Regions from separate parts of the Homo sapiens genome. Here all the other regions are linked to region 1. The links come from fine-mapping of genetic effects on gene expression. A gene starts in region 1. Each other region holds a variant in brackets. All regions are shown on one strand. Distances are between the middles of the regions.

The links. PIP is the estimated chance that this variant, and not a neighbour inherited with it, causes the effect. A credible set is the group of variants that fine-mapping cannot tell apart.
Region 2: its variant is the best candidate, but not a certain one, in a credible set for the expression of CPAP in nucleus accumbens (GTEx, PIP 0.75).
Region 3: its variant is the best candidate, but not a certain one, in a credible set for the expression of CPAP in lung (TOPMed, PIP 0.51).

What each region holds. Positions count from the first base shown.
Region 1 is chr13:24,917,333-24,928,152 of GRCh38, forward strand. CPAP (centrosome assembly and centriole elongation protein) reads right to left here and starts at 5,529. Exons shown (of 17, transcript NM_018451.5): 1 at 5,429-5,529. RefSeq lists enhancers at 4,673-5,574, 5,575-6,476.
Region 2 is chr13:24,896,084-24,906,903 of GRCh38, forward strand. CPAP (centrosome assembly and centriole elongation protein) reads right to left here. Exons shown (of 17, transcript NM_018451.5): 7 at 9,263-10,820; 8 at 7,843-7,975; 9 at 3,336-3,501. Among named protein-coding and RNA genes, the nearest start is that of CPAP, 21 kb to the right of the region's middle. RefSeq lists an enhancer at 4,428-4,507. The variant T/A (reference allele first, on the strand shown) is at 6,361.
Region 3 is chr13:24,938,409-24,949,228 of GRCh38, forward strand. It overlaps the pseudogene TPTE2P1 and the pseudogene SLC25A15P3. Among named protein-coding and RNA genes, the nearest start is that of CPAP, 21 kb to the left of the region's middle. The variant A/G (reference allele first, on the strand shown) is at 5,773.

The DNA of each region.
Region 1 (10,820 bases):
TGAAATGTGGCTAATGTGACTGAAGAACTGAATTTTCCACTTTAATTAAAGTTAATTAAATTTAAAAAGTGAATAAGTACAAAATATTTTTCTCTTAAACACTTTTATTCTCTCGGTAGGACTGCATTTCACTTTAACCACTGCATGGCATAAGATGCTGCTGTACTGAAGCCCATGTCAGTGTGCATCACCCCCCAGATTGCAAAGAAACATGTCTGCAATCTCATCAGTGTCAATGGACTGATTCTGTTTGAATAATTTTTTTCAACACATGGATATAACACTGTTATGTGTCTATCTGAATAGTTTATGAAAACAGTACAAGTTACAGTGATCTATTTAAATTGTAATTGGTAATTATCTTGGTCCATTTTCTGCTGCTATAAAGAATACCAGAGAAGAGACTAGGTAATTTATAAAGAAATTTATTTCTCACAGTTCTGGAGCTGGGAAAAACAAGAGCATGGCATTGGCAACTGGCAAGTGTTGTCCCATGGGGGAAGAGTAGAAAGGCAAAACAGCCTGTGAGAGAGAGGCTCTCTTTTATAACAAAGCCACCCCTGAAATCAGTAACCCACTTCTGAGATAACAGCATTAATCCATTCATTAGGGTGGAGCCCTCATGACCTAATCACCTCTTAAATTTCTCACCGCTCAACACTGTTGCATTGGGAATTAAGTTTCCAACAGGAGTTTTGGAGCGGACAGTCAAGCCATAGCAGGAATTAAGTTGAAATGTTTAGTATTTTAATTATGGCATATTTTTCTAGTTTGAAAAAGATGTATGAACAATTTTTAAAATTTAAAACAAAGCTACACTATGGAAGACTCAAGTGGAGATGCAGAAGCTAGTACTATGACCAGAACAGTGAAGGAAAAAAGACTGGAAGGAGGCACCTCACAAGTTTCACATCAAATGGCAACCACAATTTGCTGTGGCAAAGCGAACAGAAAAAGTTTTAAAAAATTTTAAGATAACTAATATTGAGACATTTTCAGCAAAAACACAGCAATTTTTTATAAGTTTATTCTCAATAATAAAAAAACAAATTGATATGCAGTTGACCCTTGAACAACACAGTAAGGGTTAGGGGGACCAACTCCCCATGCAACCGAAAATCTAAGTGTAACTTTGACTTCTCCAAAACTTAACTGCTAATAGCCTACTGTTGACTGGAGGCCTTATCAATAACAGTTAACACATATTTTGTATGTTATGTGTATTATATATGGTATTTTTACAATAGTGTAAGCTAGAGAAGAAAAGTTAAGAAAATAATAAAAAATATACATATTTACTATTGGTTAAGTGGAAATGAATCATCATAAAGGTATTCAGACTTCATTTATGTTTTGTGTCTAAAAAACATAAACATATGAAAGATATGCAGGGAGACCTTTATGATGATCCACTTCCACTTAATGGATAGTAAAGGTCTTTGTGTCACTAGTCCTCACATTGGACTAGGCTTAGGAAGAGAAAGGGTTGGTTTTGCTGTCTCGAGGGTGACAGAAGTGGAAGAAAATCCAAGCATAAGCGAACCCACAAAGTTGAAACTCATGTTGTTCGAGAGTCAACTGTAATTAGTCACCTGTGTCAGAACTAAATAGCCAACAAAAAAAAAGTTTTATGATTTTGAACAGAATCTGACCTTTTAACTTTGGCCAGTTATAAAAAAGCCTGGAAAGAAGGAGGGTGAGGGGAGAGAAAGAGATAGAAATGAAAAGAAAAAAGAAAATTATTTTCAGATGAAGAGGAGGTAAATAGGTTATCTGAGTTGAGGAAATTTTGTTAGAACACTGTGAGATTTAAAAAGATATTTTAATTAAAAGGTTAAAGATATTTTCTAAAAAGTGAAAAATTTTCAACGAAGTGACCAAACAATTGTCCATAGACCCTTCTATTACCATCCAGGTTCAAAGCCATAAAAAATTACAAGCACTTGTCTTTAGCTTTATCTGAGTAATGCAATGAGAGACTGACCAATCACCAATTTAGGTGTGTTTTATCTCACAGATTATCTAAATTTACAAAGAGATGATATCAATTCAAAGCCTGATACTGAACCTGTGACATGGATATTTTTTAATCTTTTTTTTTTTCCTTGAGACAGGGTCTCACTGTCACCCAGGCTGGAGTGCAGTGGCATGATCACGGCTCAGTGGAGCCTCTACCACCCAGGCCCCAGTGATCCTCCCACCTCAAGCCTCCGGAGTAGCCAGGACCATAGGCATATACCACAACACCCAGCTCATCTTTTAATTTTTTGTAAAGAGTGGTCCCCCTGTGTTGCCCATGCTGGTCTCAAACTCCTGGGCTCAAGCCATTCTCCCACCTTGGCTTCCCAAAGTGCTGGGATTACAGGCGTGAGCCCCTGCGCCCAGTATTTTATGTCTGACAGAAGAATTTTAGCTAGATATGAAAACATTACTTTTTTTCTTTTTTTCTGAGACAGGGTCTCACAATGTCACCCAGGCTGAAGTGCATTGGCACAATCACGGCTCACGGCAGCTTCAACCTCCAGTGCTTAGGTGATCCTCCCATCTCAGCCTCCAGAGTAGCTGGGCCTACAGGTATGTGTCACCATGCCCAGCTTATTTTTTATTTTTTAATTTTTTTGTAGAAACAGGGTGTCCCTATGTTGCCCAGGCTGATCTTGAACTCCTAGGCTCAAGCCATCCTCCTGCTTCGGCCTCCCAAAGTGCTGGTATTACAGGTGTGAGTCACTGCGCCCAGCCTAAAAATCAGTTTCTATCATGACAGATGGTGTCATTCTATAAGGCAAAAAATCTGAATTTAATGGGATTTTACAACAAGAGACTGCTGTTTCCCTCGCTGATTCATTCCCCTGTATAATACACATTGAAAATTCTTGTGTTTGGTTTTCTGAAGCATAATCCACGAATAGTATCATGAATATAGTTGTTACAATTGTTCAGTATGTACAAATGCTATCAACTGCCAGTTTATAGAACTGTTAAAAGACATAGAAGACAGTGAACATAATGATACTGTGTTTTTGCCATCGCTCCCTGGTTGAGTTGTAGAAGAGTTGTATAAAGGCTTACTGTACCATTAATTGCAACTGAAGATTTTCTTGGAACAAGATGATTGCCTGCCAACCATTTAATAACCAAAAACAAAAATGCCAATGTGATGTACATTTTCTCACTGTATCACACTTTGAGAACCACAGCTATTCAGGCATTTAAAAAAACAAAAATTGCTGCCACAGGCAGTAACAAAAATAAATAATGATGTGTGAACATCAGACAAATATGATTCCTTTTTTTTTTTTTTTTTTTGAGATGGAGTCTCACTCTGTTGCCCAGGCTAGAGTGCAGTGGTGTGATCTTGGCTCACTGCAACCTCAGCCTCCCGGGTTCAAGCGATTCACCCACCTCAGCCTCCAGAGTAGCTGGGACTACAAGCATGCACCACCATACCTGGCTTTTTTTTTTTTTTGTATTTTTAGTAGAGACGGGGTTTCACTATGTTAGTCAGGTTGTTCTCAAACTCCTGACCTCAAGTGATCCACCTGGCTTAGCCTCCCAAAATGCTGGGATTACAGGCATGAGCCACCGCACCTGGCCCATGTTTCCATGTATATGAAGCTGAAGAACAGGCAAAATAAACCCATAGTTATAAATGGCATATTGGTCGTTATCCAGGAAAATGGGAGTTGTCCTGTCTGTGTGAAAGTTGATCATACAAATTGAGTCATTCTTATAGCCAACTAAACAATCAAGAAGTCAAGAGGGAAAGGCACTCAGGACACACAACTTTGCTCCAAGAATGGAATTCTCTATAAGTCAGTATGCTGAAACTGCCGGTTGTAACCCGAGACCAATTTGATCTATAGATGCTGAGGTAACTTGCTGCAATTGTAGGACTAATTTTGCCCTCCACCATGGCCCACTCGGTAGGACCTGCTGCCTCCCCAGAACCTTAGGAGAACCAATGAACTTTCTCGAAGAGCGACAGATATAACAATTCTCTTTTTTATAAAACCTCCAGCTTTCTCTTTGTTCTTTGGACATACTGAAGACCACCTGGTCTGTACGCCTGGAACCGCCATTCTTTCTTCCCAAATAAAACGTTAAACTTAAGAGATTCATCTCCAAATTTTTGACTTCAACAACTGGGAAGGTTAATACAGGGGGTGGATACACTTAGGCTGTACACTTAAGATTAGCGCACTTTACTGGATATCTGTTATTCCTGAATAATTTGTAAAAACTTTTTCTAAGCAAATTGTTTTTCAGTAGGAAACCAATCTAAAAAAGTAATGACTTTTTTTTTTTCAAAATCAACCACGTAACTTTGCTTAATTTCAATGACCTTAGCAGAAAATCTTTCGAAATCCAAATTCAGAAGGGAGACAAACTACAAGGTCATTTCATAATATGGAAAACTAGAAAAATTCCCTACTAGACTGACAAGTGCAAGCAGTCTTGGGATGCAGCAGCCAGACTTTTGCATCTCCTCCTCCAACTCCCCACCAAACACACCTTCTATACCTTCAATTTCATGACCGCGATTCTAAAAATATATTTAATGTCAGCATGAAGTATAAAAAAAGCGTCACCAGAACCTGCTACTTATTATTGATACTGAGGTCTTGGTAAAGGGAGCATTGATAATATATATGCCGAGATAGGATTAGTATGTGGACTCAGACTTTACAGATATCAAAATCTGAAGGACACGGGTGCACGTGTATGTCAAACTCATCAAATGGAATGCATTTAAACATGTGCCATTTTTATTGTATAGCAATTATACCTCAATAAAACTTTTAAAAAATGTAACAAACTGACAGCCTTGAAATCTCCAGAAAGTGCTATGTAAACATTCTTTAAAGCAGTATTGAAAAAAAGATAAATTCTCTGCACGGTGAGGGAGGAGAGTGGATACAAACAGCAAATTCAAAGCCACTCTTAGACCGTGAGAAGTAACTAGTTGGTCTGGGAAGTGATTTAGCAGTCCCCTAAAATACAACACGTTCTTGAAAGCCATGAATCCACACGAAGCTTCAAGAGAGAAGCCCTTGACAAAGCTGGGGCAAGACCGGCCCTTAGGACAGCCAGCAACGCTACTTCACCACCCTGCTCCAGCGGACTGCGGCTGCCGCGCTGCCCACAGGAACTCAAGTTCCGCCACAGCCAGGTCAGAGAGACAGACACCCCAGAGAGGCCGGCTTCCCCAGCTCTGCGAAGAACAAAGCAGCGCGAATGAACGAAGCCACTGAACTGCCGTGGGCCTCAGCGCGCCCGTGGGCCTGAGCGCGTCCCGGCGCCCCGCTCCCTCCTCGCCCCGCCGAGCCAACCCCGAGGTCCGAGCAGAGTCCTGCCCGCCCACCGCCGTCCATCTCCGGCGCAGGGCGGCGGACAAAGAGCTCCTCCGCTCTTTTCGCCCACAAATTACCGCTCCGTGAAGCCTGGGCAGCTCAGCAGCACGAACCGACACCTCAATCTCCGCAGCATTTACAAATGGGCCGCCACAATCGCCGCCTCTGTCGGAGCCCCGCCCCCGTCCCGAGGTCCTGTGGGAAGTGAGGATCTCACCCGCGCGTCTGCGCTAAAGCGCAGGCACCGCTGAGCCCAGTGAAACTACAACTCCCAGTGACGCCACAGCGACGGGCGTTGCCCGGCGGGGGATGGACTGCGCGCCGCCTTCCGACCAGCAGCGGGCCAGTGGTCGACGTAGGCGGGCGGCGTGGCGGGGCGGAAAACCGTTTCCGGGAGAGACCTTCCGTGGTGGACGTCGCCCCAGGCTCCCACACTTAGAAAACTAAAGGGAACGCCTAACGGAGCGATGGATCTCCGTGTTCCCAGCAAAGCAGGGAGCACGGAGAGTCAAAGCTAACATAGAGCCCAACCGACGCTTAAAGGAGGTGTTTTGGGTTTTGTTTTTTTTTTTTCTATTTGCGTACGGTCTATTTTGTCGTTTTTTTGGTTTGGTTTGGTTTTTTTCTTTGTTTTCCGCTTTGGCTGAGGTGACTTAGTAAAGGAGAAAAAGGGCAGTCCGCTACACCATTTCGTAAGACGAAAATAACCCTATGAGAATTCACTCCAAAAATAGGCATCTTTCATCTCTCCTCAAATGGCTAATCGGTGGTTTGGCAGAGTGTGTCCATTAGATTCTGAAACTAGTTTGAATACTGACAGTGCAGAATTCAAGAAATTTTTTTGTTTTGTTTCGTTTTAACTGCCACGGCCCTTTAATCTAGGAAGTTACAGCACCGTGAGTTACCACAGTACTACATACCTGGCTTCCATGTCTGATTAAACAGCAGGCCAAGTAAAATGTTTAAAGAAATCAAATGAAGTGCCATTTATAACCGTTATAACTGAAACAAACGACTGCTAAAGACAAAACTATTTCACAGAAATTTGGTCCTCCAAAATTTGTTTTGCTTTCTACTTCAAAAAGAGTCTACTTCTCTAAATCAAGATTTCGGTTTTGCTTCTTTTTTCAATTTTTCTTTTCTTTTTTTAATTTTTATTTTTTGAGATGGAGTCTCGCTCTGTTGCCCAGGCTGGAGTACAATGGCGCGATCTCCGCTCACTGCAAGCTCTGCCTGCCGGGTTCACGCCATTCTCCTGCCTCAGCCTCCCGAGTAGCTGGGATTACAGGCGCCCGCCACCACGCCTGGCTAATTTTTTTATTTTTATTTTTAGTAGAGAAGGGGTTTCACCGTGTTAGCCAGGATGGTCTTGATCTTCTGACCTCGTGATCCGCCCGCCTCGGCCTCCCAAAGTGCTGGAATTACAGGCGTGAGCCACCGCGCCCGGCCCAATTTTTCTTTTTAATTTTCACTGTGGGTGAGGAAGCTAAAGCCCGAGACTTCCGAGATCACACAGCTACTTAAGATGCCAGACAAGGACCCAAACAATCTTCCTTTTCATTTATGATAGCCCTTTGGCTTGAAAGCATGCCCAAAAGTCTCATCATTCTTCCTAAAATGTGTATCTTTAAGGATAGTCGCAATATCCTCTATTTTTGTGCCTATATTTTATTCGTATGTTTTTATTTTAATATAGTATGTAGTGCCACATTGTTTGTTGATTGAATAAATAAATGAATCTTTTACCACACTCAAGTCTTAACTGGCTGTTAAATTAAGGTTATAATGTGTAAGTTTTCACCTGTAGCCCATGTAATTCTCAAAACTGCCCACTAAGCTTCAAGGGTTCAAATCCATTACAAGGTGGAAAGGCTAGTGGGGAGGAACTTCCATCTTCTACTCTGCCAGACAATAAAATGTTCTACCTTATCAGTGGTTCCTATCCTTGTTGCATCTTCAGATGGTGCTGTAGAGAAAAATTAGACTAACGGTTGTGGCACAGGGGTTTTAATGCCAGATTACCCGTTCTGATACAATTCTTTATGCCATCATAGGAGTCAAGAGGGCACTCCTATGTCATGGTTAAGAGTCCAGGATTTATCAGGCAGACCTGGGATCAAATCCTAGCTTGATAACTTACAAACAGCTTTGTAGTCTTCAGCACTCAACTTTTCTGAAACCAGTCTTCTCATCTGCAAAACAGGGGTGGATAATAATGAGACCTTCATAGGACTGTCAAGAAGATTACATTAAAAGAAAGACTATGTATGAAAAAGTAGCAAAAAACCTCCACATAGTAAAAAGTCAATGAACAGGAGGTGTTTTCATCTTTATAAAGAATTTAACTGTTGGTGAACTCTTGTCTACCAAAGCCTAGCTCTGTGGGTCTTGTCAAATGCTGTGCCAGACACAGAATAATACTTATTGTATTCCCAAATTATTTGGAAATAATTCTTTTTCATTATTTATTTTTTTGGAGACAGGGGTCTCACTCTGTTGCCCAGGCTGGTCTCTAACTCGTAGGCTCAAGCAGTCCTCTCACCTTGGCCTCTGAAAGTGCTGGAATTACAGGCATGAGCCACTGTGCTTGGCTGGTAATAATTCTTTTAATCAAAGTTGATCTGAGTGACAAAGAGTTGACAGCTTTTCATTGCTGGTCTGATGGTAGCAAGTGTCCACTCTATCCAGAGAGGACATGTCAGGTGCAGTGGCTCACACCTGTAATCCCAGCACTTTGGGAGACTGAAGCGGATAATTTGAGCCTAGACGTTTGAACGTTAGCCAGGTATGATGGTGTGCACCTGTAGCCCTACATACTTGGGAGGCTGAGGCAGGAGGATCACTTCAGCCCAGGAGTTGAAGGTTATGATCACACCACGAGACTACAGCCAGGGCAACAGAGTGAAACCGCCAACTCTTAAAAAGAAAAAAAGTGGGGGAGGACATCAGGGCTAGCCTGGCCAAGGAATGATTCCTATAGATCAGTCAGAGTGGTGGGAGAAACTATAGGGAAAGGAGCAGACCTTCTGAAAAGTCGGAAGCCTCTGCATAGCCTCCAGGGAGAATAAGCTGAAGGCAGCTGTTTTCTGACCCTGAGGCAGAGGGCAAGGAGTAGGTACCAGGAAGCATAGGGGAATTTATCGTAAATAGGCTTGTTTACTTACATTGACCAGGAGCTGACCTTTGATCATCCACATGCGTGACCCGTTCCCTGAAAGGGGAACAATAATGTTAATTACCCACAGATTGTTTTTGCTCCAGGCTTTCAGCATTATGTCTATACTGAATAAAAGCAAGCAGCTCCAGCTGTTTGCCTGCTCACTCTTTGGCCGCTAGTGCCAAGCAGTCCCCTAGCTGCTCTTACACTGCATATCTGCGTCTGAGTACTCGTTTCATCCATCGTCCAGCCAGGGTCTGTGGGACAGACCCAGCAACTGGTGCCCTGTGTGAGGAATGCTGCAACAGATCACGATGGAACCCCCAAAAATGAGGTGAAGAGACTGTGCGGGAAGTAAGTAATTGGTGCCCACTCAGGATTTCCAAGTTTGAGGGAATTTTCAACCTAGGGTTTCATCATGGGACAACAGTTATCAGCTCAACAGCAACACTATATGTAAGTATTGAAACAGCTGCTTAAAGCTAGCAGAGCCTGGGTCTCGGAGGCTCAGTTAAGGGGCCTAATGCAAACTGTTGTTTTCAATAACCCATGGTTCCCAGAAGAAGGCACGTTAGACCAAGAACTCTGGGAGCAAGTGAGGGGAAATCTTAAATAACATCATGCACAAGGGAAACGGGTCCCAGTAACATCTTTAACGTTATGGGCCTTAATCAGGGCTGCTTTGGCCCCACTCTACACAAAAGAGCCTAAAAAGGAAAGGGAAGAGGAACCATCCACCTACCTGACCGCCTCCTCCTCCCTCAGCCCCACTGTTACTAGGTAAAGGTGCCACAGAGGAGACAGAGTTTCCCTGAGCCCCCTCCTCCAATAAATTGGAAAAAAAGACAAGGGATACACTACAGTTACGGGACCCTGTCTTAGGCAAGTGGCATTAGAAGGGGAGCTCTTGGCCTGCCCTGTGATGCAAGATCAACACGGCAATCAGGTATATGAGCCCATCACTTTCAACACCTATAAAGAGATAAGAAAAAGCATTAGAGAAAACAGAGCTGCTAGCCCATCTACAAAAGGATTAATTGAGGCCATAGCAGACAACTTCCTTATGATCCCATGGGACAGGTCAGTGCTAGCTCAAACAACTTTAGAGGCCAGTCAATACCTCCTCTGGATGGCAGAATATGATGAGTTGTGTGAATGACAAACCAACCAGAATCAATTGGCTGGGTAAAACATATGGGTCACTCAGAAACAGAAAATTGTCGGCACTGGAGAAGTGCACACAGCCAAGCAGAGTGCACGCCCTCTAAAGTCACGATTTGGAGGGAAGAAAAGCAACTATACAACCTCTAATCATGCCCATCCCTGTTCATCTTTGGGAATGGGACCTTATTAGCCCAATGGGGGGGTCACTATGCAGAGCCCTTTCTAATAGTGGCCACTGTTGTAAGTCCTCCCCTACCCCTGACATGGCTGTCTCAAGATCCAATTTGGGTAGAACGGTGACCTTTAAAGGGAGAGAAATTACAACAAACCCATGAATTAATTGAGGAACAATTAAAAGCCAGCCATATAGAACCAGCAGACAGCCCTTGGAATTCACCCATTTTTTGTCATTCCCATAAAGTCTGGTAAATGGAGAGTTCTGCATGACTTACAGGCTATCAATGCTAATTTGCAACCTATGGGGCCCCTTCCACAGGGGCTCCCTTCCCCCCGCAGTGATTCCTCGAGTTTTGAGTCATTATTGACTTAAAAGACTGCTTTCATACTATTCTCCTTGCAAAACAGGACAGAGAAAAATTTACGTTTACAATACCAGCTATCAATAATGAAGGCCCAGCTCCCTGATTTCACTGGAAAGTACTTCCCCAAGGAATGCTGAACAGTCCTACCATGTGTCAGTATCGTGTAAATAAGGCTTTGCTCCCCAGTAGAAAAGAATTTCCTAATTGCAAGATAATCCATTATATGGATGACATCTTACTGGCAGCCCCAACGGAGCCAATACTTTTGAATTTATATGCCTCTGTCAAAAAGAATACACAGTTAACAGGCTTAATCATAGCACCTGAAAAGGTACAGATGTCCTCTCCTTGGAAATATCTTGGATATATACTAACATCCCAGTCAGTAAGACCTCAGAAGGTTAAATCGAATACTAACAACAGGCTTGTTTACTTATGTTGACCAGGAGCTGACCGTTGATCATTCACACACGTGACCCCTTCCCTGAAGGGGGAACAATAATGTTAATTACCTGCAGATTGTGTTTTCTCCAGGCTTTCAGCATTATGTCTGTACTGAATAAAAACAGGCAGCTCCAGCTGTTCAAGACTACTCACTCTTCAGCC
Region 2 (10,820 bases), 21 kb before region 1:
AGAAGTAAAAAGAAAGGTAAATACGGGGAACTATGAATAAGCCAAATGGTGTAAGGAAGAAAAGGAACTGCACCAAAACCAGCAAGAAATAATGAATACCCAGGGTTACACATGATAACCAAGTACGAACAGGGTCCAAACTTCAATCAACACCAGAAGTCATATAAACGAACAAAGGCGAGAGTTCAAGAATGAGTTCCTGAAGAGGGACGGCAACTCACCAGCCCAGCCCCTTGCCACCCAACAAGCCCCTTGAATGGGCACAGCCCAGAGCTGCCAGCAGTGAGGATGTGCCCAGTCCTGCATGGTGCAGTGTGGCAGCCACCAGCCAGCCACAGGTGGCTACTACTAAGTCCTGGAAATGTAGCTAATGGGAATGAGAAACTGAATTTTCAATTTACCTCTAATTAATTTAAATGGAAATAGCCACACAGGGATAAGAGCTAGCAGCCTGGACTGCAGAGCCTGAGAATCAGAGGACACATCTTGTGAGGGAAAGGCATCAAGTTGCAAGAAAAGAAAACCCACGTTATTCATCTAACAAAGTACAACAACAAAAAGAAGTGTGTTTGCTCTGGTTTGAATCCTTGGAAGAAGTAGTCAGGATCAGAGCTATGAGAAAGAGAAGGAAAAAAAGCAATCAATCTCACAACCTTGTGTGGTCTAAGGAGGTTATTTATTTTTTCCCTTTGGATCTGGTAAGATTTTCATAACACAGCAAGGTTATCTCTAATCCTAGGAGATCCAGAAAGAAAAATGAAATGACAAACCCATCATGTATTTTAGGCTATGGTTTTTAATTTAGTGAAGTTTTCTGATAGCAGAATTTGTTATAACTACTGGTTCAAGTATATGTCTTGTTCACTAAAAACAGCCATACTAAATTTGTAACTATAACTCAGATTGTTTAAAAGAAATTCAATTAAGTTTAAAATCAATTTTAAACCTCTTACCTATCAGGTAGAGAACAAAAAACACTCTAAGAATTGCTAGTAGAACTAAAAATTAATTAGCCAGCCATGGTGGTGGGCACCTATAATCCCAGCTACTTGGGGAGCTGAGGCAGGAGAATCGCTTGAATCTGGGAGACGGAGGTTGCAGTGAGCTGAAATTGAGCCCCTGCACTCCAGTCTGGGCCACAGAGTGTGTCAAAAAATAAAAATAAAAAACTGAACTAAAATTTGGCATGATGTTTATGGAGGGATAATCTGGCAATTTGTATCAATGTACATACCTTTAACCTCAAAATTCACTTGTAGGAATCCATCCTAGAGATATACTCCAGGACATAAGCTACATGAGGACAGGGATTGATTTGTTTTGTTCACTGCTGCATTGCCAGTATATGCCTGCTACACAGCAGGTACTCAGTAGCCATGTGCTGAATGAATAAGTGGGAGAATGATTGTGAGAGGTCACATATGCGCAGTTATTCAGTACAGCCCTTCTTGGATTCTTGTAAACAGAAAAAGAACAGAAATACATAGTGCTTAGGTGAGTAAATTATGGCACATATTACAATTCTATACAATAATAAAACAAAGAACAAAGATGTTCTGTTAAGATACATAATGATTTCAGTAAACTATCATTAATGTTTAAAAAAACATCATGAATGTATATATGTACTTTCTAAGAATTTCTCTGGGAAAATATGAGATTGATAACACTGGCTGCCTCGAGAGGTGAATTAGAATGCAAACAAATCAACTGTAAAAAGATACCAAACGACTGGAAAATCTGAATATGGACTAAGTATTATTTGATACTAAGGAATTACTGTAAATTTTGTTAGGTGTGACAAAGGTATGATAATTGTCCCCCGCCCCGTGGACGGAGTCTCACTCTGTCACCCAGGCTGGAGTGCAGTAGCATGATCTTGGCTTACTGCAACCTCCTCCTCCCGGGTTCAAGTGGTTCTCCTGCCTCAGCCTCCCATGTACCTGGGACTACAGGCACACCACGACACCCGGCTAATTTTTTTGTATTTTTCGTAGAGATGGAGATTTGCCATGTTGGCCAGGCTGGTCTCGAACTCCTGACCTCAAGCCATCTGCCTGCCTTGGCTTCCCAAAGTGTTGGGATTACATGAGTGAGCCACCACCCCCAGCCAATAGTCTTATTTTTTAAAGGTGTCTTTCTCAGAGAAACATACTGACTATGTATAGGTGAAATGAGGAGATGTCTGGGATTTCACTTTTTAAATTCCAGATTAAAAAGCAAAAAAAGAGTACAGCGGGGAGAGAGATGAAATTAGACAAAATGATCACTGGTAAAATATGGGAATTCATTCTGTTCTTGCTACTTTTATGTATTTTTGAAACTTTCTATAATAAAAAATTATTTTCAAAAAACAACTGAATAGGTGGCCGGAGCAAGGGTTGGGGAGGAATTTCACCACCCATCTTTTTGTAACTTTTGAATGATAATATATTTATATTACCTTTTGAAATAAAAGTTTTAATATTGTCAACATCTAACATATTAGATTTAATAAACTAAGCATTAACCAAAACATAATGGTACGTTTCTTCCCACAAAAATAAAGAAGGAGAATTAAAGACCCTGAACACCATGCTATTCAATAACTCAAGCTGTACGTGTGCAGGTGAGATTGCTCAAGGATGGCTGCATGAGACAGGAAGAAAGCAAAGGATGGAACTCAAAAATGCTAGTAATTAAAATACAGACAGTGGAAGGTGCATTTTATACTAGAAGCAATGGATAGCCATTTTAAATTTCTCTTTTGATAAGTCTCAACTTTGATGAAGTCCAATATATCCATTTTTTCTTTTATAGTTAGTTGTGTCTTCTCTTAGTAATCTTCGTATATGCCAATGTCGTAAATAAATTCACCTATTTTTTTCTAGAAGGTTTATAGTTTTAGCATGTCCACTTCTAACTATGAAATGAACAAGACTGATAATCTGGCCTATCAGTTTATAAGTTTTAGAATTAAACACCTGGTTATTTACAGCCATAAATTATGATAAATGAACAGAACTAACAATATTTGGTGGGTGGTAGGTCAAAAAGATTAACACAACATAATGCTGGTGAATTTCCAACTCCAGGCTTGTTAATTCATCCATGACATTATCGTGGTCTTTTCTAGGAAGACTTTACTAGTAAGAAAAGAACTGAAATCTTCTACTCTTTAAAAGTCAGACTACCAAAGATATTCCTGATACACTGTCTCAGACAGATTATTTGCTGAATGAATGAATAATGGATTGATACACAGTTTTGCTTTGACATAAGAAATAACTCTGAGATGCTTACAAGATTGTCACCTTTACTAACTTACATGAATATAACATAAAGAACTAGCATACCTGTATTTCTTCACGTTCCTTTTTATCTGGAAAAGTTCTTGCAGCTGTAGTATACTTTTCAAAAACTTTACGTTCCTTTTGTAGCTTCCTCATCTCCTCCTTTTTAAACTCTTCTATTCGAGCTAATTCTTTTGCTTTCTGTTGTTCGAAGTCTGCAATTTCTTTCCTAAAATGACCAAACTATGTTATCACCTAAGGAGACCATCTCAGTGCAGTGATGTGCAGAACCTGCTGACAGGCTAGTAACTGCTAGTCCTAGTGAATTCATCTTCAATCCATAGGCCTGAAATAACAGCCAATCCACTCACTAAAGCATTCATCCAATAAGCATTCATTGGGTGCCTACGATGAATCAGGCATTCGACGAAGTAGTGGGGAAACCACAGTGAAAAAAACAAACATTCTAGCTGGGCACAGTGGCTCAAGTCTATAATCCCAACACTGGGAGGCTGAGGCAGGCTTGAGCCCAGGAATTCAAGGTTATAATGAGCTGTGATCGCACCACTGTATTTCAGCCTGGGCGACACAGACAGACTCTGTCTCAAAAAAAAAAAAATGTATTCCCATGCAGCTTCTTACATTCTATTGGAAGACAGACGATAATAAAGATAAATAAGTACATGGAATATTAGAAGCATTAAAGAGAAATAAAGCAAGGAAGAAGTTTAGAAAATATCAGAGTGGGAGGGTGAAACTGTGTTGTATGTGAGGGCTTATCTTGCTGAGATAACATGAAGGAAACCTGAAGAAAATGAGAGAGCCAGTCACAAGGGTGTCCACACACAGCAGTACAGGCAGAAGGAGCAGCAAGTGCCAAGGCCCTGAGGCAAGAATGTGCCTGAGGTGTTCAAAGAACAGCCAGGAGGCCAGTGTGACTAAAACACAGTGAGCAAAGGATGGGTAGCAGGAGAAGGTGTCAAAAAAGGAGGAGACAGGCCAGGCACGGTGGCTCACTCCTGTAATTCCAGCACTTTGGGAGGCCGAGGCGGGCAGATCAGGCCAGGAGCTGGACCTGAGGTCAGGAGTTTGAGACCAGCCTGACCAACATGGAGAAATCCCGTCTTTACTGAAAATACAAAATTAGCCAGGCATGGTGGCGAATGCCTGTAATCCCAGCTACTCGGGAGGCTGAGGCAAGAGAATCACCTGGGAGGTAGAGGTTGCAGTGAGCCGAGATCGCACCATTGCACACCAGCCTGGGCAACAAGAGTGAAACTCCATCTCAAAAAAAAAGAGGAAGGAGGCCTTGATCAGATGAACCGTCCAAACGCAGGCTGGCTCTGGATGTGTGTGAAGAGCACAGACGCGGGCAGCAGAGAGACCTGCTAGGAAGTGAATTTAATAACCAGAGAAAGCCAATGGGGTCCTGGTGGAGAGTGGCAGCTCTGAGGCAGTGAAGCAGTCGGGTTAGAAATGGACTGAGAGAGCAAGAGAAGACTCAAGCATGACTCCAAGATTTTCCACTGGGCAAATGGAAGAGCAGACTCATGTGCTGAGACAGGGAAGAAGAAGAGAAGAGTAAGTTCAGGAGGGAACGTCAGGAGCTCACTTTTTCTAAATGATCAATTTAAACACTCATCAGCTCTCCAGGTAGAGAGAACAACGAGGCAGTGGGATAGGAGATGTGGGCGAGAGAACTGGATCTGGGGCGTAACAGCATTTAAAGCCTTGAGACCGGACAAGTCTCTCCCTGCCTCACTGGAGGGAGAGCAGACAGAAAAGGTAAAAGACATTCTTACTGACTATTCAAAATGTCGACCGTGTGCACACAATCATATAGTCAAAGCAAACACTGGGGGAGGAATACTTGTGGCACATTTGAGAAAGTTAAATATCCTGATAAATGAGCAAAGATCACAAAGAAAGTTACAAAATAAACACAAATGACCACTAAATATAAAAGCATGCTCAACTTTATCAATAATTAAATAAATACAAACTTTAGCAGGTGAAAGATGGCATAATTATCAGGTTGGCAAGATTTGAAAGACTGCTAACGCTCAACTCCAGTGATGGGGAAAGGGGTGAGAAGAAGCCTCAGATGCTGACTGGGGCAATGGACATTCTTAAAATTTATCACAAGGAAGTAGATTTTTAAATAAAAAGTGTCTTATACATATGACGATATTCCCTGCAGAATAATTTCTAATGTGGAAAATTCTAAACAAGCTAAATTTCCATTAACTGATTAGTCACAGTGGCATTCATATAATACAGTCATTTCAAGGATACAGAAGACTAGGGCGTGCTAATAGGTAAGATGTCTATTATGTTGTTGAAATGAAAAGCAAGGCTGGACATCGTAGCTCATGCCTGTAAGCCCAGAACTTTGGGAGGCCAAGGCAGGGGGATCACTTGAGCCCAGGAGTTCAAGACCAGCCTGGGGAACATGGCAAAACCCCGTATCTACCAAAAATACAAAAATTAGCTGGGCGTGGTGGTGCGTGCCTGTAGTCCCCGCTACGCAGGAGGCTGAGGTGGAGGATGGTTTGAGCCCAGGAGGCAGAGGTTGCAGTGAGCCAAGATTGTACCATTGTACTCCAGTCTGGGTGATAAAGCCAGACCCTGTCTCAAAAAAATAAAAATAAAATAAAAAGCAGATTAAAGAGCCCATACAGTAGAGCCCAGGGCTCTACTGAACCACACTGCCTAGGCTGGCACTGAGGCTCTCTGTCACTGACTAAGGAGGTAAACTTAAAAAACTTGCTTCTCAGTGCATCAGTTTCCTCATCTGTCAATTGGGAAGGATAACACAATGTCTAAATTCGAGGACTGAATTTTGCTTAGAACAAAGCAAAACCGAAATAGGGAAAATGCTAAAAAAAAACAAAAAACAACAACAAAAAAACAAAAACCCAGCCATTATCTTATGACTTAAATGTTCTTTAAAAGAAAAAGATGTCCGTTTTGAAATAATGAAGCAGAGACGTTTTAAAAGTGATCTTGGGTGGAGAACGGATTGGAATAAGTTCCACATTTTACCCATAACTACTATGATAAGCATACATTTACAGTATGTATCAGC[T/A]GAAAAACAAAGATGTTTCCATTAAAAAGTAACAAATTTTCAGAATTTGATTTTTAAGCATACTGCAGATTATAGTATAGTAACCGAATTTCCTTTTTAAGTGGATTAATAGCTGTCTATAAACCTTTATCTGGAACTTAGGGGCCAGATGTGCTTTAGAATTCATATTTTTCAGGTTTTAGAAAAGAAATACGGAAGAGATGTTAAGGAAGATGGTGGAGTAGGAAGCTCCAACAATCAGTCCCTCCACCAAAGCAGCTATTGAACTAGCAGCACCTGTCAGAATCAACCACTTCGGAACTCTGGACACTAACGAAAGACTTGCAGCATCCTGGGGAGTGCTAAAGAACAAAGAGGCTGGGAAATTTGGGTGAATTTCAGCATTTGCATAGCAGCTACCATCCCCTAGATCCCATCCCGCAGCAGGCAGCCATGGGAACTACAGTTGTATGAATTTCTCCTCAAACATTAAAATAACAAATACCAAAAAACAAAGAAATACGGTGTGTATGTGACATATAATATCCCCAACAAGACCCAGAGCAACACCTGGAATAAAAAGTACTAGTATGTTCCTGCAACAGAACTTAGTACTATTCACAAGTACAATTAAAAAATATGTCTACGTAAAATTTATATAGAGAGAAATAATAAATATAACATATATAAATAGCCTCATGTAAGTTCAGTTCAAGTTTTGCTAACCAATAAAGTCAGGTAAGATCATGACCTAGGGTAGGAGACGATATGTCATACTATCGACTGCTGTAGGTGGAGTTGTGTCCTCTAAAACAATATGTTGAAGTCCCAATCCCTGTGAATAGTGCCTTTGCAGATACAATTAAGATGCCAGTTAAGATGACGTTATACTGGAGTAGGGTGGGCCCTTAAACCAATATGACCCTATCCTTAAAAGAGGCACCAAGACAAACACACACAGAGGAGAATGCCATGTGAAGACACACACAGAGGGAAGATGGCCATGTGACCACAGAGGCAGAGACTGGAGTGATGTAGCTGCAATCCAAGAAATACCAACGTGTGCCTGAAACCACCAGAAGCTGGAGGAGCCAGCATGGCCCGCCTTGCTGATGCCCGGACTTTGGACTTACAGCCTCCAGAATCACAAGAAAATACATTTCTATTGTTTAAAGCCACCCAGTTGCTGGTACTTTGTTACAGCAGCCCAGAGAAACCAATACACTAACTAGCCAAAGTACCACTTGAAGGTACCATAGCTCCAAACTGTTTTTCAAATTTTAATTTATGATCTCTCCACTAAGAAAAATTCCCCTTTGTACACATCATTGACTACCCTGGGTCATTTTATTCAGTAAAAAAAACTTATATGATACAGATTTCACCTCCTTTTCAATTATATTTGTTTGACTGATTTAAATTGTTTCAGACTGTTTATAGATGGTCTTAAAGGTATAACTGAGTCACTGCATATTTTTTCCCAACTTACAGACCCAAACGTACCTGAGTTTTTCCAAGGCACTTTCTCGTTCAATGCGAAGTTTAGCTAAAGATGCGTTCTCAGCTTTAAACTTTTCTATTTCTGTTTCCAATTCAATAATTTTCTCTCTCAAAACCTGGGATCGAGCATTGTCACCTATGAAATAGGCCATAAATACTGAACTTCAAAAAAGGCATTACTGCAGCAAAAACACTAGCTAGCTAGTAACACTAAGAGCCAAGAATATGGCAAACATCTGTGCTATTAAAATGCATTAGAAACAATGCTTCAAACATGAAAAGGAAAAAAAATTAAACCTAACTTTCCTGAGGAAATCAGTGGGAATTTATGGAAGAATTAATCTACCTCAAAAGAGTATCGACCTGACAAGGAATCAACATGATACATAAAAAGAAATCATTCAAATCAATTTTTCAAAGACGAATATATATAAATAGCTTAAGAATAAGTAATCCACAAGAGATCTGAAGAGCTAATCAACACCAAAATCAAAGTTTACCCCTACTATTAATCAAATAAATGCAAATTGTTTTCCCTTTATCAAATTTGCTATTTAAAATGTAAAATAGCCAGTGCTTCTGTCCTTCAAGCATTTTTATCAATTAGTACTTTTTTAGAAACTAAATGTGATCCACAAGGCTAAAGAAATGAGCTAAGTTATACAACTCTGTCATATTAAAACTACATAGAAAAAATGACTGGAATGAAATATCCCAAAATGGCATAGCAGTTACTTTTGGGTAGTTAAGTTGTAAATATTTTTGCTTCTATGCTTTTTAAGCTTCCAAACTTTGTACAAAAAAATTACTTTTAAAATCAGAATTTTTGAAAATTAACGTTATAATTTCTATTTTAATTTCTATTTTAAAGCACCTATGCTCTGCTAGTTTATAATATAATATAATGGAAAGGAATCTTTCAGGGTGAGTTTAAAAAGTCCGTTACATCAACAGAAATACTACACATCCGTTAAATGGAATGAGGTAGGTGTGTACATGCGTTAGAACAATCTTCAAAATTTATCATAAGCAAGGTGCAGGACAGTATACAAAAAGAGTCTTTTCATTTGTATAGAAAGGTAATTATATACAAACTGACACATATGCTTTTATATGCACGGACTCTTTAGAATACACAAACGAAATGGTAATACTGGTACCTCTAGGAAGGGGTACTTGAACCAGGTCTGGGGAAGAAAGGAAACGTAGAAGCTTTGATGTTATCTCACTTTATTAAAAACTAATTAATTTTAAAGCCTCATATAGACCCATAAAATAAATCAAATTTTTACAAATCACCCATTAATTTGACTTAATTCTATTGAGCAATAAGGAAAGTTAGGATTTTAAGCATTCTGACAGCATACTGATTAATGTTAAATTTCTAACATTCTGATACATATTTTATAATGCTCTGACTCACCAGGTGGTTGGTCTTGACTTATGTTTAACTTGAGTTCATTTCCCAAGTGTGAATCTGACTTTGGTTTTGGTTTCAAAGAAGGAAAGAATTTCATCATCAGCTCCGATGTAGGAGGACTTCTGCTCCTCCTGGACTTGCTCAAGTCTTCTCCCCTCTTGACTGGTGCAATCTTCCTTTTTATTGTTTTGTCCAGGATACCTATTTCATTATTAGGGTAGCATGTCTGCGGCGTCCCATAAGTGGATTCATTCCCAAGAACAACATCATGGTTACACAAATTCTCTTCAAGGTCAGTCCAAGTTCTTTCATCATCAAAGTCCATTTTACTCAGACTTAGGGATGAGGATCTCGAGGGCTCAGACACTTTATGTTTTATGCTTTCCATGATAGACTCATCGCTACTGTAATCTTTATCAGACAAATCCAGATCAACATCTCTCCTTTTATCTTCTTGGGTCCTGGTGTCCTTAAAAGGCCCCTTATCATCACAGACTTGTGGGCTATCCTCTCTGCTGCTGATGCCCCTCTCTCTATCCTCAGTCGATGGTTTTATGGTAACATCAAGCTGTTCCTCAGAGTCAGTGCTACTGTCACTATTTGGAACACCTTCATCGTCACGTGCATTCCATTCAGTCTGATTTTCAGAAGTGCTCTTTTGGACGGCTTTCCTGATTTTACAAGGCTGTTCCCTCAATTCATCAGCTGAGGACAATGAATGAAGTTGTTTGGGTGCGACTTCACACTCACTCTCCTTCTCACGTGCAGTGTGGTCCAAATCCTCACTGCGGTTACAATGACTAATGGGATCTGCCGGATTTGTCTTCTGTGGCACAGCTTTGACAGGGGTGGAAGACATCCGGTGACCTTTGCAGATCTGTTGATCCCTTTCTAAGATTTTCAGTACAAATGAGGAATTACTAGAAAATGATATTTCATCAGCAGCTTGTTCTAAAAACAAAAATTCATCTAATTCCAAATTTTCCTTTTCCTTTTCTCGTTCCCAAGTCTCTAACTTTTTCTGAAGAGAAACGTCAAGAGAAGATTCAGACTCTTTCATGGTCTCCCTTATGGGGCTCTTAGCAGCCAGCCGGCTGGCCGGCCCTGTTGAAAGAGGAAGTCTGTCTTTACCTTGTGTCTTATTCCACCCTGTGCAGCCAGTATCGCAAGGTTTTGGACACTCAGTTACATTTTCTTTATTATTAGATGTGACTTTGTTTTCAAATTTGATCTGGTCTCTAAACTGCCCATCACATTTCTTCCCCGTCTGTATTTTCAATCCTGACGGAGAAAGACTTTTCCTGTTACTACACTTCAGCATTTTCGGCTTCTGACTGAGGGTGACAGAACCACTCTTGGTTCTAGCTTTACTGTCCTTTTTAAGGATAGGGTTGTCTGCACACAGCTCTTTATTTTTAAGAGCGGTTTTCCGCTGGAGTTGCTGTCTATCCATTTTAAACAGCGGCTGGTCCTCGGAAGTGCTCTGGTTAGTCACTAGTTTACTTTCTTTGCCTTTTTGAAACTTAGATTTGGCATTAGTAAATCTAGCTAAACCTTCTCC
Region 3 (10,820 bases), 21 kb after region 1:
ATACTGAATCAAGATTTCCAGAAGAAAGTCCTGACAACTTGGATATTTAATAGGTGCTCCAGGTTATCAAGCACATTAGAATACAATGGCCCAGGTGCTGTATCTCAAAGTGTGAGTCTGTGAACTGGCATTGTCTGCCTCACTCGAGAACTCATCAAGACAGGCAGAATCTCTGGTCCTGTTTGAGACTATTGAATCAGAAGCTGCATTTTTATTTAGCAAGGCCCCCAGGCGACTCCTGTGCACGATTATAGTTGAAGGGCTAGTGGACTGTGGTGACAGGAACATATTTGGTGCTTGTGCAGGGCCTTGTTCTAAGAACCCATGATGCTTGTGCACAGTGGAGCATCCCATCAGTCCAATTGTTGGGAGAAAAGCTGAGGCAACACTTGCTATCTGACATAATATAAAGAGTCTTGGAACATGTCCTGGGTCCAGAGTTTAAAACCTCTTGTGGCCTGTGCAACACCAGCCTCTGTGCTTAAGGGTGGAAGGCTGCCCCGCTGCACTACAACCTAAGCCCAGGGCATAAAACCCCTCATGGCTTGGATGGAATCCACGACTCAGGACATAAAACCCCTCGTGGCCTCTGGAATGTGCCCAGACTTGCTGGCTCCTTGCTTCTTGCTCTCCCAGGATCATAAATTGATTGTATCTTGAGTTATAAGGACATATTCAACATTATCTCGAGTAGCAGAACATGTTCCATATGCTTCAAAGGAAATGCTAAACCGACACAGCTATAAATTAAACACTTGATGCGACCACTTCCTTTTGACCAGCACATCCTCACCCCCTGCTTCTTTGTTTTATCACCAATAAATAGTGTGGGCTCCCAGAGCTCAGGGCCTTCACAGCCCTGAGTGCCCTGGACCCACTTTATGTACTATTGTCTTGTCTCATTCCTTTGACTCTGCCGGACTTTGTAGCCCCCATGGCATGGTGTTGGGGCTATTTGTGACTGCCTTTGTTTTATAATATTTTTATTATTCACCTTGTACAGATGAAGACTCCCAGCTGTAGAGGCAAAGGGGCCAAACTGCAGGTAGAGCAGGCATTCCCCAAGGTGTTTGTGATCCCGGGGTACAGCTCCCACCCTTGGCTGCCTGGATGCTTCTTTCCAGACCAACTGTATCTCAAAGACATCCCCTTAGGCACCCAGCACAGGCTGCTGTCTCAATTTAGAACTGAGCCTGTTCAGTTGATGGCTCAGCACAGGCCTCTAAAAAAGCAAGCCTGATGTGGGTTAGTACATCTGTGGTTGGCTTACTTATTTGGTGTTCATTTTTTCAGTTTTCAGAAAGGTCACTTGAAGTGCTGCTGGTGGCTGTAGCATTGATACACAGTGGAGGTTTTTGATCTGTGAGCTTTTTAGGGGACAATTGCTAAGCCGCACTGATACCTTGAGCCCATTTCCTTTGGAACAACGTAGAGCCCAGTTCATGGCTCCCAGAAGTTTAGGTTCAGTAATTTGGCTGCAGGCCTAGACAATGGGAGGCTGCAGACTTGGACTAATGGTGAACTCTTGCCTCCCCCCAGGGATATGTGGTGCCTGTCATAAGCTCCAGAGAGCTGCCTTCCATGAGACCAGCAGAAGAGTGGGTTCCACTATCCAGGCTGCCATTGACCTCATGGTGGCGGCTGCAGGTACAGTCCTGTGTCTCATAACCATGCTTCTGTTGGTGATGGATGGTTTATCTGATAGTGGTCCCATGAGATTATACCATCTTTTACTATACCTTTTCTGTGTTTATATACATTTAGATACACAAATACCACTGTGTTACAGTTGCCTACAGTATCCAGTACAGTAACATGCTGTACAGGTGTGTAGACTTCAGCAACAGGCCATACCGTACAGCCTAGGTGTGGAGTAGGCTATGCCATCTAGGGTCGGGTGTGTGTGTTCTATGATAGCACAGTGATGAAATTGTGTAATGACACATTTTTCAGAACATGTCCCAGTCATTAAGAAATGCCTACGTATAATCCCAGAGAAAACCCAGTCTTCTCTATTACTCAAGTACCTTCTAAATGAGATCAAATGAAAGTGGTATGAAAACATTACCTTTCTCCCTCCAGAAGCGATGGGCATTACCTTTGGGATGAATCCATTTGATGGAAGTGAAGTATTGTTCAGAGTGTGGCAGAAGATAGAGGAGTGTCCATTATTGCTAACACCTTGTGAGTCAGGGTGAGAGGAGGAATGTGCCCAGTACAGCTGGAAAACAGCTCAGAGGTGAAGCCCCTTGTCCACTGTCACCTGGCTGGGATAGGCAGGTGACGTGGTTCTTCACTTCAAGCCTGGCAGTCTTCAGAGCCCTTGTAGTGCAAAAATAACACCGTAGCATCTCCCAGGAAACACCACTTACTGTCCCTGCCAGTGTTGGGAAAGAAAGGAGGACACTCTTTAGAAGTGTCTTTTACAATGAGACTGATAATGGACTGTGTCTCAGAGCCATGAAAGGAAAGGAGAAGTTGTAGGATTTCCTGGGAATGTCAGCTAACTTGAGCCTAGGGGCCTGAGCCCAAGGGCAGACTGAGGCTCCCCCGGCACAGGGAGGTGCTGCCTGTGACAAGGGGGTAGTGCTGGCACAGTGCAGGCTACTCCCTAGAAAGATCAGCTTGAACATGCAGGAAGAGCAGGACCCTTGGGCTGAGGCACAGGTAGAATGGGAAGTTCATGGTAGTAATTTAGTTCTCCAGAGGCCAGAAGTAGGAGGAGAGGTTGGAAGGCTGATTGCCCAAAGGGAAACCCTGGACTACCCTGGCGTCCCACAGGACTCTCATAGTACTTGCGGCTCCCTGCAGTGGGGAGGCCAGAAGGAGTGTTGCCCAATGCTGTCCTCATCCAGTCCACCCCCACCCACCACCAACGGGTGGGTATGGTCATGAGTGTGGTCACCTCATCAGTCATTTGCTCAGCTGTGAAAAAGAAATTGTTCAGAGAAGAGCAAAGTGTTTTTCCATGAGCCAAAGGTCGGCCAAGGTATGCTAATGAGGAGGACTGGAGACAGCGCATCACAGACACTGATAAGGAGCACTGGGCAAGGGCACTTCTCCCAGGGCAGAGCCCACAAGGAGCGTCCTGGCACCAGATGCTCAGGGAACTGAAGGCTGGCAGGGGCCTGCCCAGTAGTCTCTCGCCCACCGCATGCCTTTAGGCTACAGCCTCCCAGGCCCCGGGCCCCCTCCCCTCCCCCGTGCCACACTGGGGAAGATGCTGACCCTGAGAATGGTGCAACCATCTGCCTGCCCCTGGCCACCTCTCACCAGCACGTGAATGCTCTTGGGCTCAGTTCTGTATCTGCAGTAGGAGGGTGTTTATCCACGTGACAGAGTCTCACCATTTGACATTTTATGTCTTTCAGTCTGTCAAAGATCTAGAACATATTGTGATAGAATTAAAAAGTTTACTTTTGGCTGGGCAAGGTTGCTCAAGCCTGTAATCTCAGCACTTTGGAAGGCCGAGGCAGGTGGACCACTTGAGGTCAGGAGTTCAAGACCAGCCTGGCCAATATGGTGAAACCTCGTCTCTACTAAAAATACAAAAATTAGCCAGATGTGGTGGTACATGCCTGTAATCCCAGTTACTCGGGAGGCTGAGGCAGGAGAATTGCTCGAACGCAGAAGGCAGAGGTTGAAGTGAGCAAAGATTGTGCCACTACACTCCAGCCTGGGTGACAGAGTGAGAATCCACCTAAAAAAAAAAAAAAAAAAAAAAAAAAGAGTTTACCTTTTCCTATTTATGCGCATACAGGTATTTGGGTACCACGTTTGTAATTTACAGTTAGTTTGAAAGATAGAAATTGAAACAGTATGGTTGGGAGCCTGGTATGTAAGCCGTTTGCTGGTGGGCGTGTGTGTATTGGGCCCTTGTATGTACGATCTCTGTGATCCCATCATTACTGTTCATTTCTTCCAGGAGAGGAATGACACACTTCTCCCTTTAATTGCCAAATTATCTCCAATTCTGAATCAGTGGAATATAATTTAATATGATTTTACTATGATTAATTCAGGGTCATTCTCTCCCAGGTGCTGCTGGGCTAGGATAAAATGAGATCTGAATTACATTAAAATAATTAAGTATTCCAAGAGAAGAGGTGACAGAATGGTTTAAGTGGCTGCGTAGTTTAGATAACCTAGATGCAGATAAGCTGAATAAAGCATTTAATCCAGCACATTCGTATTTTAACTTGATCATCAGCAATGGGAGTTTGAAACCCGATTGCAGCTGCATGTCCCACACAACTGAATTTTGTTCCTTGCGCACAGCAGTGTTTTCTGGAGGTGCCTGGAGGTCTGAAGGTGTCCCCTTTTATAGGCAGGAATTCCACCAGGATGGGTATAGCTTGTTTTTTTAAAAGGCTTGGGACTGGATACGATTGCCCAAGAAGACAGAAAAATTAGCAAACTTTATTCCAGTAAGAAAGTTTGGGATGTACTGCTTCAGTCCCTGTCCTAAGGAAATTATCAAGCCTGGAGGGTGGGGTGCTATCAACTGCCTGCCAACATGTTACCTTCTGACATCCAGAAGCTTCCCTGTGCCAGATGGAGCCACCAATGTGGGGAGGAGAGCACAAAGAGCAGAGAATCCACAGAAACCATACCTGCAGGGAGCAAACACCATCACACTCCACTTAATGCAAATGCATTTACCTATTCTTACCATCTCCCTCAGCATGTTGAATCTATTCTGGGGTTAGACAAGCTCCCAGACTTATCTGCTATGTTTAATAAAAACAATTTTGGCTTTTAATGGTAAAGGAAGAATCGGGGCTATTAAAATACTTAAGAGTGAGAAAGTTGAAAAAAGATGTAGATTGCGTTTGGCCTGTCTTCCCCCCACCGTAAAGGGTTGCCACTCAGCTGGAGGCCTGCTGGTTCGTGTGGGCCAGCCCTCCACACCTCAGTGACCAAATGAAATACAACCCTCACTAGAGCTTCTTGTACTTGGCAAGACCCAGGGGTAGACCTGGGCTACCAAACAAAACCTTGTGTTCTTAGAGCCTGGGAACAACAGCTTTGACAGTTTCCACAAAGAACTCTTCCGCAGCATTAGCATTTTTATTTTCACCTACCTGCAGCCATTACTACATTGAACTCTGGGAATGTCACGTCAGCTGTTCTTGAGATAAAATACCATTTGCTATTTTTTTTTCTCTAGGCCCTGTCCCTTTGATGTTAAGTGGTGGAGGGAGTTGGCGGGATTTGCCTCTGGCTTGCGGTATATCCAGTGGATTGTATCAAATAAAGAATTCAAGTTCTTTCCATGTCTGGAAAACAGGCAGGATTTATCAGAACCTTTATAAATGTTGTGAAAAATGAAGGTGAGTAAACACCTGTTTTTCCAGCATCTAGTATACATCTTAAAATCTGAGATATGAACTTCTCTGTTTTGATTGTAAAAAGAAAGAGAACAGTAACACAGAAACTTTGTGTCCCAAATAGAGCACAGATACCTTGTCTATTACTCATAGTAATCCTCCCTTAAATTTGTATAACGTGAAGTTTTACAAAGTACTTATACCTCCCTTATCTAATTCAATCTTCATGACCACCCTGGGCAGTACTAATACTATAAACCAGTCTCCAACCTCAAGGTTGGTGCTCTTGCCACTGCCCAGGTGAAGCTGCAAAGCTGTGGCCACCTCTGTCTCCATGGTTGCCTCTGTCTGGCTGTCTCAGGCCTCAACTCTGCCCCATCCATATACTAAGAGTTAACCAAGCATGGAATTGGGGTATGTTACCTGAGCATCAGTCAGTTTC[A/G]CCAGGAGACCTGATACTTGTTCTTGTTTCTGTTGGTCTATTTAGGGAAAGCTGGGAACGCATCCATCCATGACTTGTTGGTTTTTAGCACTCTTGCCTGGATTTGCATGTGTAAATATACCTGTGCTATGCAGCTGCGTGGGTGTCCCCAAAGGAGGGATTGTTACAGTCTTTGATTGCCCTTTTGTCTTCTAGGAATAATGGCCTTATATTCTGGACTGAAACCTACTATGATTCGAGCATTCCCTGACAATGGAGCACTCTTTTTGGCCTACGAATATAGCAGGAATTTGATGATGAGCCAGTTGGAAGCATACTGAAGTGTCTTGGAGGGCCTGAGCCAAGCACAGGTGTTTGAGGACTACAGTTCATTTCAGGGTTTCTTGTAGTACAAGACCAGCGTGAAGTCATTCTGATTTCTTGGGAATTTTGCCTTTCTGTCTTCTCTTATACCCTATATCTTAACTTGTTTGGAAGAACCTCTATTTTACATCATGTCATTTCTGCCCATAATTGTACTGAAATAGAGAAGTCACTGCTCTTTCCCTTGGTAAAATAGAGAGTGGTCAGTAGCCTTATGCACCTAATTCAAAAGACTGAGTACAGTTCTGTCAGGGCTTTTACATAAACCTCTACTTGCACATTCAATTTGGACAGTTATGTGTTGAGGGAAATACAGTTTGGTTCCATGTTTATTTCAAATATTACCAGAAAAACCCAGAGGTGATCATTTCTCATAAAGATGCTTATAAATGGTTGCTTAACCCATTCTAGATGTAGGATCTACTTAATATGTGTACTATTCTAAGTGGTTGATTTTTTTTTTTTTAATATGGAGTCTCACTCTCTTGTCCAGTCTGGAGTGCAGTGGCGCAGTCTTGGCTCACTGCAACCTCTGCCTCCCGGGTTCAAGAAATTCTCCTGCCTCAGCCTCCCAAGTAAGTGGGATTACAGGGTTGCACTACCACACCTGGCTAATTTTTGTATTTTTAGTACAGACAGCATTTCACCATGTTGGTCAGGCTGGCCTCGAACTCCTGACCTCATGATCCACCCGCCTCAGCCTCCCAAAGTGCTGGGATTACAGGCATGAGCCACTGCACCTGGCCAAATAAAACATATTTTTAACTAATAAAAACTAAGGACAAAGAAGGGCATTCCTTATAGAATGATAAAGGGCACAATTCAACCAGAAGACTTAGCCTAAATATGTACACACCCAACACTGGAGCACCCAAATTCATAAAACAAGTTTTTCTTGGCCTACAAAAAGATTTAGACGCACAATAACAGCAGGAGACTTCAACAACCCACTGACAGCAATAGACAGATCATTGAGGCAGAAAACTAACAAACTCCGTACTTGCACTTGACAGTTGACCAATTGGACCTGATAGACATCTACAGAACACTTTGTCCAACAAACACAGAAGATACATTCTCATGTGCACAGAGAACATATTCTAAGATCAACCACGTGATTGGCCAGAAAGCAAACCTCAATAAATTCAAAAAGTTTGAAATCATACCAAGCACACACTCTGACCACAGTGAGACAAAAATAGAAATCAGTATCAAGAAGATCTCTCAAAACTACATAAGTACATGGAAATTACATAATTTGCTCCTGAATAACTCCTGGGTGAAAATCTAAATTAAGGCAGAAATAAAAAAATTCTTTGCAATTAATGAAAATGGGGACACAACATACCAGAATCTCTGGGATGAAGCTAAAGCAGTGTTAAGAGGAAAGTTTATAGCACTAAATGCCTTCATCAAGAAGTTAGAAATATCTCAAATTAACATTCCTACTTTGCACTTAAGAGAACTAGAAAAAAGAATAAACTAACTCCAAAGCTGGCAGAAGAGAAATAACTAAAATTAAAGAAGCACTGAATGAAGTGCTTTTTGAAGTGCTGTTTTTTTTTAGACTAGATGCAAAAATCCACACAAAAGATCAATGAAACCAATAATTAGTTTTTCAAAAAATAAACAAGATGGATAGACTGACAGCTGAACAAAGAAAAAAAGAGAAGAAGCAAATAAGTACAATCATAAATGACAAAGATGACATTACAAACAATCCCACAGAAATACAAAAGATCCTCAGAGAATACTACAAACAACTCTAGGCACACAAATTAGATAATCTAGAGGAAATGGATAAATTCTTGGAAACATATAATCTCCCAAGATTGAATTAGAAAGAGATTGAAACCTTAAATAGACAAATACCGAGTTCCAAAATCAAATCATTAATATAAAATCTACCAACAAGGAAAAGCCCTGGACCAGATGAAGCAACAGCTGAATTCTACCAGATGTACAAAGAACTGGTACTAGTTCTATTGAAACTATTCCAAAGAACTGAGGATGAGGGGCTCCTCCCTAACTCAGTCTATGAAGCCAGCATCAGCCTAATACCAAAATCTGGCATAGAAACACACAAAAAGAAAACTTCAGGCCAATTACTCTGATTAACATAGACACAGAAATTCTTAACCAAATACTAGGAAACAGAATCCAGCAGCACATCAGTAAGTTAATACACCACAATCAAGAAGGCTTCAGTCCAGGGATGCAAGGCTGGTTCAACATATGCAAATCAATAAATGTGATTCACCACATAAACAGAACTAAAAGCAAAAACCATATCATCATCTCAATAGATGCAGAAACAGATTTTGATAAAATCCAACATCCCTTCACATTAAAAACCTCAACAGACTAGGCATCAAGGGAACATACCTCAAAATAATAAGAGCCATCTATGACAAATTCACAGCCACCAACCTACTGAATGGGCAAAAGTTGGAAACAATTCCCATGAGAAATGGAGGAAGACAATGATGCCCACTCTCACCACTCCTATTCAACATAGCACTGGAAGTCCTACCTAGAGAACTCAGACAGGAGAAAGGAAGAATAGGCATCCAAATAGGAAAAGAAGGAGTCAAACTACCTCTCTTTGCTGATGATATGATTCTATACCCAGAAAACCAAAGACTCTGCCAAAAGGCTACTAGAACTGATAAACAACTTTAGCAAAGTTTCAGGATAAGAAACCAATGTATAAAAATCAACATCATTTCTATACACCAATAATGTCCAGGCTGAGAGTTAAATCAAGAACAGAATCCCATTTATGGTAGCGACAAAGAAAATGAAATAACTAGGAATACAGCTAACAAAGGATGTGAAAGATCCCTACAAGAACTACAAAACACTGCAGAAGGAAATCAGAGATAACACAATTAAATGGAAAAGCATTCCATGCTCATGGATTGGAAGAATCAGTATCATTCAAATGACCATACTGCCCAAAACAATTGACAGATTCAGTGCTATTTCTATCAAACTACCAATGTCATTCTTCACAGAATTAGAAAAAAGTATTCTAAAATTCATATGAAACCAAAAGAGGGCCTCAATAGCCTAAGCAAATCTAAGCAAAAGGGCAAAGCCAGAGGCTTCAAACTATAAGGCTATAGTATCCAAAACAGCATGGTACTGGCACAAAAGCAGACATATAGGCCCATGGAACAGAATAGAAAACCCAGAATAAAGCCTTACACTTACAGTCATCTGATATTGCAAGGCTGACAAAAACAAGCAATAGGGGAAGGACTCCCTATTCAATAAATGGTGTTGCGGTACTGGTTAGCAATATGCAGAATAATGATACTCGACTCATACCTTTCATCATATACAATAATTAACTGGAGATAGATTAAAGATTTAAATGTAAGACCTCAAGTGATAAAAATCCTAGAAGAAAACCTCAGAAATACCCTTCTTGACATTGGCCTTGGGAAAGAATTTTTAACTAAGTCCCCAAAAGCAATTGCAATAACAACAAAGATTGACAAGTGGGACCTAATAAAGCTAAAGTGCTTTGGCACAGCAAGAGAAATGATCGACAGAGCAAACAGATAACCCACAGAACAGGAGGAAACATTTGCAAACTATGCATTCAACAAAGGTCTAATATCCAGAATCTATAAGGAACTTACACAAATCCACATGCAGAAACCAAATAGCCCCATTAAAAATGTGGAAAGAACATGACACATACTTCTCAAAAGAAGACATACAAGTGACCAATGAGCATCTGGAAAAATGCTTCACTTCACGAATTGTCAGAGAAGTGCAAATCAAAACCATAATGAGATACCCTCTCACACTAGTCAGAATGGCTATTAATAAAAAGTCAAAAACAACAGATGCTGGCAAGGCTGCAGAGAAAAGGGAACGTTTATACATCGTTGGTGGGAGTGTAAATTAGTTCAGTCACTGTGGAAAGCAGTCTGGAGATTTCTCAAAGAACTTAAAACGAGCTACCATCTGACCCAGCAACCCCATTATTGGATATATACCCAATGGAAAAAAGACCATTCTACCAAAAGACACACACACTGATATGTTCATTGCTGTGCTATTCACAATAGTAAAGATATGGAATCAACCTAGGTGCCCATCAGTGGTGGATTGGATAAAGAAAATGTGGTACATATACACGATGGAATTCTACACAGCCATAAAAATGAATGAAATCATGTCTTTTGCAGCAACATAGATGGAGCTGGAGGTCATTATCCTAAGCAAATTAATGCAGGAACAGAAAACCAAATACCACATATTCTCACTTATGAGAGCTAAAAAACAGGTACCCTTGGACATAAGGATGGGAACAATAGACAACTGTGGACTACTAGAGGGGGATGGAGGGAGAGGGGTGCAGGTTGAAAAACTACCTATTGGGTACTATGCTCACTACCGGGGTGCAATATACTGATGTAACAAACTTGCACACATACCCCCTATATTTAAAATTAAAGCTAAAATTTTAAGACATGAGTATCACTCTGATCTAAGTTTCTTGAGTTATTCAAAGAATCATTCATTTTGCATTCTAAGAAAGCAACACCCAAAGAGGCCGTAAATGAGTTTTCTTTGAATAAGCGAAAGCAGAATAGTGTGACAACTCATAATTTCCAGAAATTTTGGTGGGTCTTGGAGGTCTGGGGAAGAGAAACCTTCATGGTAAT